Homo sapiens: one gene and its partner. The protein of the gene in region 1 purifies or fractionates together with the protein of each later gene. This does not show direct contact. Each region holds a gene or a part of one and is shown in the gene's direction. Other genes may lie near its edges.

What was found.
Region 2: the proteins of CEBPG (region 1) and NBR1 purify together in Homo sapiens (affinity purification with mass spectrometry; one large-scale study listed by BioGRID and IntAct). This does not show direct contact.

Annotation. Positions count from the first base shown.
Region 1 is NC_000019.10:33,379,948-33,383,186, forward strand, and holds the end of CEBPG (CCAAT/enhancer-binding protein gamma), read left to right. Parts: 3' UTR 1-2,739; downstream 2,740-3,239. UniProt on the Homo sapiens protein: Transcription factor that binds to the promoter and the enhancer regions of target genes. Binds to the enhancer element PRE-I (positive regulatory element-I) of the IL-4 gene. Binds to the promoter and the enhancer of the immunoglobulin heavy chain.
Region 2 is NC_000017.11:43,195,214-43,198,713, forward strand, and holds part of NBR1 (next to BRCA1 gene 1 protein), read left to right. Parts: intron 1-1,267; coding exon 1,268-1,378; intron 1,379-1,728; coding exon 1,729-1,893; intron 1,894-3,500. UniProt on the Homo sapiens protein: Ubiquitin-binding autophagy adapter that participates in different processes including host defense or intracellular homeostasis.

The DNA of each region.
Region 1 (3,239 bases):
AAATATCTGGGATCCCGATGTTCTTAATAAATCCTGACTTCCCAAGAAATGCTTCTTTTTTAAGTTGACAAAAGGAATGGGGAACTGGCAGGCCGCGCAGAAGGTTCTTGGTTTTAATGGATAGGCTGAATTGGATTAAGAAAAGTTGAATGCCACCTATGGTAATCTATTTGTGATTTTCTTCTAAATTATGTATTATAAATTCGTAGAGCTATAGAAAGCAATGAGTGTGTAATTTGGAGTGATTTTATATATGGCATAAACTTTGTTTTAACATAATTAGTACTGTTTTCCCCCAAAAGTACAAGTTTTTGAGTAGCAATGTCAGGTTAAGTAAAGAAACTTCATCACATCTTATAGGTAGTGTGTGGCCAATTGACTTAAAAAATACAAATAACATTTAGGAAGCAAATAGATTAAACACAAAAATAAAACTAAAGCATAGGAATTATGTTTTTGAGATACCTTTGGGCTTAGATTGGCATTGTTTTATTCTAAAAACCCAACTCAGTGGTGTAGAGAAACTTGTGTACCAAAATTTTAGTTTCTGCAGATGCTAGTGTTTTTTTGGATACAATTTTGACAACCAAGTTAGTAAACAAAATATCTTAACAGTTTGATGACACAAGCTACTGATGAGGGTTTGGAATATTAATTCAGAAGGTAGTTTCTCTTGTGTTCAAAATAGCTGCCATGGGGCTGTTACTTTTAAAGTCAAAATTTTCTTCTGAAGGCTCATTTTGGTATTTGATCTTAACCAAGTGATTATTAGAGAAATGTATCAACTCCATGCCATCTCCCAAAATAATTGTCTAAGAAAACTTGAAAGTGTAAGGTTTTAACCTTTAATTTATTTCTCTTAAATACATCTTTTGATATTGTTGTTGTGACATTTCTTTTTCTGGTTAGTGGGCTTTCCAGACTTTGTACCACTGCTTCTGTTTATTCATTTATATGCTTTTGTGTCCCATAAATTATTTCAGAAAATGCTGATAAAACTCAGGATATTGACATTTTTGTTGAGACTAAAAAATGGCAGTCGCTAAAGTAGGGACTCTAGAGTCTGGCTTACGTCAGTGTTGGTAGTTTAGATTGTCTTTGTCAACGTTTTTTCTTCTCTCTTTTGCTTTCTTTTCTTTCTCTTTTTTTCTTAGCACAGTTCTAGCTCAAATTTGTGTATTTTTTGTGTGCCTGGGCTGGAGATGAGAGACTGAGTCATAACTGATTTAAAAGTTTGTGTTATCAGGTATCTTATTTGAACATGGTCATTTTTGGCCACATTGCTGTTTCATACTAGGACTTGGGATGATGTAGCCAGAATAAAACTCAAGTTGCACCCTCCGGTTGGTGGAAGATTGCTGACCGTGCCGTTTCTGGGCAGGAGAAGACATCATGGTGTCCAGCAACTCAGCAAAGCCATTCTTAAGAGTCGTGAGGTCCTTCTGAATGTAAAACTGGAGCCCAGGAGAAGCTGTCCCAGGAGGGCTGTTAACTCCCTATAGAGCCAGGAGACAGGATAGGGGTTTCTAGGGTCCAACACCAGCTTACCTTGGAGTATGAATCTACCCATGAAGGATGAGAGATGTTTTGAAAAACTAGCCAGGACACACCCACAGGATCCTACTGGCTCCTTAGCAGCTGATTGGTGTTACATAATTAACTTAATTGGAGATGCATTAGGTCACTTGAATGTATAAGCAAGCACCTATGGTAGGCGCTACAGACATTTAAATCTCTTGGGAATTCGATGCTCCCATGGAATTTATACCAGTTATATGAATTGACTTAAGTATCTTGAAAAAGAAACTTTAGAGAAAGCATCAGGGGTGTGTACTCAGTATTTCAAATCAGAACACAAGATTGGAACTTTTGGAAAAATGGGTTCAAGCTTTCCTATTAGCCATGGAAATGCAAAGTTTAGCAGAAGCAAGCAATTAGGCAGAGAACAAAAATGTTAAGCATGGTGTTGTCTATCTTATTGAAGTGGTTGGAAATGAAAGCTTTTAATTTGATAGATTTATCAGTATAAAATTAGGGAAACCACGTGTGGGGAATGAATCAATTTAGAGCTTCGGGAATTGTGAGGTGACTTTTGTAACTTTTGTTCTGTGTGTGACCTGTGAACCACTAGGATGTGATCTGCCCTTGTGGGCAGGTCCAGCATAGTTAGGAGTTAGGCTTTAGCATAAATTTCTAGCTGCATCTGAGTCTCCTGGGATGGGTGCTCTTTGGCTGGTTTTGGCTGCGGATGGTGAGATCAGAGCAGCTCTTCCTGCTGCTGGCCCCTGCAATCAGTTGTTGGGATGCCAGTGCAGATCACTAAGTAGTAAGATTTTAATCAAACACGACCAGGTCCGAAATGCAGGTCATGAGTGTGAAATTCTCAAATTTACATAAAAAGTAGAAGTATAGACAGTTTAACATTTGGTATTAAAGGAGAGGAAATTGTAGCAGCTTTTCACGTTTCCCAGTCCCCATTAGAGGGCTTGAGACCTTGTACCTGAACAACCCATTTTGCACTCAGTGCTTTCTGATGCCTTAGGAGAATTGTTTTGTTTCACAAAAGCTGGGAAGGAAGAAGTCCATTCTGCAGCTGTTAGATCTGCCTCTCAGGAAAAAGTACTAACTTGTTCTTTTTGTTCCTGGCTTTCATCAGTTTGTGAGATTTCTCTATTTTTTTTAAATATAATTTTATTTCTTTCAACAAATATAAAATAAAAAACAACTTTGGAACAATGACTTGTCTTTCATCGTGGCTTTCTTTATATTAGATACCAAAAAGCAGTCCAGATGTTAAACAGCTGGGAAGCCCAGGCAGGTGCCTTGCTGTCTTTCCTGTTCCCACACTGGACGGCTGGGGGTAGGGGTGGGGAAAGTGGGGAGACAGGCAGAGGTATTTGTGTCCAAGTCTAGATCTCCCCGTTTGCCCTTAGTGGATAGGAAAATAGTTTTCTCTGAACATGGGATACATCTTTAGTTATATTTTTAGTCACTTGGTCTAAACTAAAAATTATACCAGAATAGGGAAAGGAATAACTGAATAAATGGGTTCCCGCTTAATCACCTAGTGTCTCAGAACATGGTTTCCATTTAGAGAGGGAAGAAATTCTTATGTTTCGAGATAGATAGTCAAGAATTTAAAGTAAGGCCTTTCCCCATCTGGAGTTTTGTAGTACATGTGGACACTGTCCTCATTTACGTCATAGAGTGTCTGTAGAGATGAATTTGCTGATTTCATA
Region 2 (3,500 bases), on another chromosome or scaffold:
AACAACATGCTGGGCATGGTGGCTCGTGTCTATAATCCCAGCTCTTTGGGAGGCCAAGGCAGGAGGATCACTTGAGGCCAGGGTTTGAGACCAGCCTGGGCAACATGGTGAAACCCCCATCTCTACAAAAATTACTTTTAAAAATTAGCTGGGTGTGGCCAGGCACGGTGGCTCACGCCTGTAATCCCAGCACTTTGGGAGGCTGAGACGGGCAGATCACCTGAGGTCGGGAGTTTGAGACCAGCCTGACCAACATGGAGAAACCCCTTCTCTACTAAAAATACAAAATTAGCTGGGCATGGTGGCACATGCCTGTAATCCGAACTACTCGGGAGGCTGAGGCGGGAGAATTGCTTGAACCCAGAAGGCGGAGGTTGTGGTGAGCTGAGATTGCACCATTGCACTCCAGCCAGGACAACAAGAGCAAAACTCCGTCTCAAAAAAAAAAAAAAAAAAAATTAGCTTGGCATGGTGGCCTGCACCTGTGGTCCCAGCTACCAGGGAGACTGAAGTGGGAGAATCTCCTGATCCCAGGAGGCAGAGGCTGCAGTGAGCCAGGATTGTGCCATTGCTCTCCAGCCTGGATGACAGAGTGAAACCCAATCTCAAAAAACAAACAAAAAAAAGAGGCTGGGCACGGTAGCTCACGCCTGTAATCCCAGCACTTTGGGAGGCCAAGGCTGGTGGATCACAAGGTCAGAAGTTCAAGACCAGCCTGGCCAAGATGGTGAAACCCCATCTCTACTAAAAATACAAAAATTAGCCAGGCATGGTGGCAGGTGCCTGTAATCCCAGCTACTCGGGAGGCTGAGGCAGAGAGTTGCTTGAACCTGGGAGGCGGAGGTTGCAGTGAGCCGAGATTGTGCCACTGCATTCTAGCCTGGGTGACAGAGCAAGACTGCATCTCAAAAAAAAAAAAAAAAGCAATAAAACAAGTTCGTGCAAGGCTTTTCCACTATAAAGGAATCCTCTTCTCTTTTTTCCCTCTAGATACTTGTGTCCTTTTGTTCCTTTATGTTCATGGTTTTGTGTCTTGGCCACAGCTTTCCAGGCTAAATAACTGTGATTCTTCCTGCATTGATTGATCTGAGATATTTTGCTTACTTATTGGTCTGGAGAAATTTTTTGTAACAGACCTCAAAGCATATCTTGGTTTATTTTAGCCCTGCGGGAGGCAAGAAGCCTACAAACTGCTACTTCTGGACACTGACTGTTGATGATATGATGCTTTCTCTTGATTGATGGTTCTCCTGTCTTCATTCTCCAGATGTGACTCCCTGCATGTCTCCTCTGCCACATGACAGTCCTTTAATAGAGAAGCCAGGCTTGGGGCAGATAGAGGAAGAGAATGAAGGGGCAGGATTTAAAGCACTTCCTGGTAAGGGATTAAACATTTGTAAAGTATTTGCATCCTCCCTTTCCATATCATACCCTATTTTACAGCTATCCCCTACTGACCCTACCTTAGCATGTAAATGGGCTTGCTTTCTGTAGCATCTCATGTTTTGAAGTCTCCTCACCTTCACATGGCACAGATAGCAGCTATTCCTTGGTTTAGTTTTAGCATGGGTAATGACTGGTGAATGTTCTTCAGCACTTTAAACACCAAGTGCAGACAAAGTTTAGATAGCAGCTATTCCTTGGTTTAGTTTTAGCATGGGTAATGACTGGTGAATGTTCCTCAGCACTTTAAACACCCAGTGCAGATAAGGTTCGTGTGTCTTTCAGATTCTATGGTGTCAGTAAAGAGGAAGGCTGAGAACATTGCTTCTGTGGAGGAAGCAGAAGAAGACCTGAGTGGGACCCAGTTTGTGTGTGAGACAGTAATCCGATCCCTTACCTTGGATGCTGCCCCAGACCACAACCCTCCTTGCAGACAGAAGTCCTTGCAGAGTGAGTGTCCTTGCATTTCCCCTACCTAGCAGGGTGGCACCTGAATTGTGACTGCCAGACTTGACTAGTTAGATGTGCTCTTCTTCACTGAGACTGAAGGGAGAGTGATCTTAGTTAGAAGTTCTGATCTTGGCGGGGCGTGGTGGCTCAAGCCTGTAATCCCAGCACTTTGGGAGGCCAAGGCAGGCGGATCACAAGGTCAGGAGATCAAGTCCATCCTGGCTAACATGGTGAAATCCCATCTCTACTAAAAATACAAAAAATTAGCCTGGCGACGTGGCGGGTGCCTGTAGTCCCAGCTACTCGGGAGGCTGAGGCAGGAGAATGGCATGAACCCGGGAGGCGGAGCTTGCAGTGAGCCAAGATTGCGCCACTGCACTCTAGCCTGGGCGACAAAGCGAGACTCCATCTCAAAAAAAAAAAAAGAAATTCTGATCTTGTTTGTGTCTTTAGACTCTACGTATGCTACCTGACTGTTCTAATTAGAGCATCAGGAGTAAAGAAGCCATCATACTCATTTCTCCATCTTCTCAGGGGCAGAATTACAGCTGCATTCCACAGTGGAATAGCAGCCAGTTGTGCTGCCTGGATTCTGCAGTAAGGAATCTTCCTGTAATTTGACAGAGCTCCTTAGCAGAGACCCCTATGGGTAGCTGAGTTGTCTGCTTTCTCCAAGGGCAGCAGTCCCAGAAACAGTGGATAGAAGCAGGAGTACCAACAAAGTTTCTCAAGGTTAAATTCTGCTGTAATAAATACCTTTATAGGCCGGGCACAGTGGCTCACCCTTGTAATCCTAGCACTTTATGAGGCTGAGGCGGGTGGATCACCTGAGGTTGGGAGTTCGAGACCAGCCTGACCGACATGGAGAAACCCCATCTCTACTAAAAATACTAAAAATTAGCCAGGTGTGGTGGCTACATGCCAAGGATTACATGCCTGTAATCCCAGGTACTTGGGAGGCTGAGGCAGGAGAATCACTTTAACCCGGGAGGCGAAGGCTGTGGTTAGCCGAGATGGCGCCATTGCACTCCAGCCTGGCAACAAGAGTGAAACTCCGTCTCAAAAAAAAAAAAAGGAATAAATACCTTTATAACAGAAACTTCTAGGTATCAGATAGATAGAACCAATAGCATATATTTTAAGAAGTATCCAAAAATTCAAATATACTATGTCAAAATAATATTGGAGAATCTCTTTATTATAATCAAATTTGACCTATATCTTTAAATATTATTTATCTTACTTTTGTTTAAAGTATACATGTAAGGCCAGGCGCAGTGGCTCACGCCTGTAATCCCAGCACTTTGTGAGGCCGAGGCGGACAGATCACAAGCTCAGGAGTTTGAGACCAGCCTGACCAACATGGAGAAACCCCATTTCTACTAAAAATACAAAAATTAGCTGGGCGTGGTAGCGTGTGCCTGTGATCCAGCTACTCAAGACGCTGAGGCAGGAGAACTGCTTGAACCCGGGAAGCCAAGGTTGCAGTGAGCTGAGATCGCACCACTGCACTCCAGCCTGGGTGACAGAGCGAGACTCCGTCTAAAAAAAAAAAATAATAAAGTGTACATGTGGCCAGGTGCGGTGGCTCATACCTGTAATCCCAG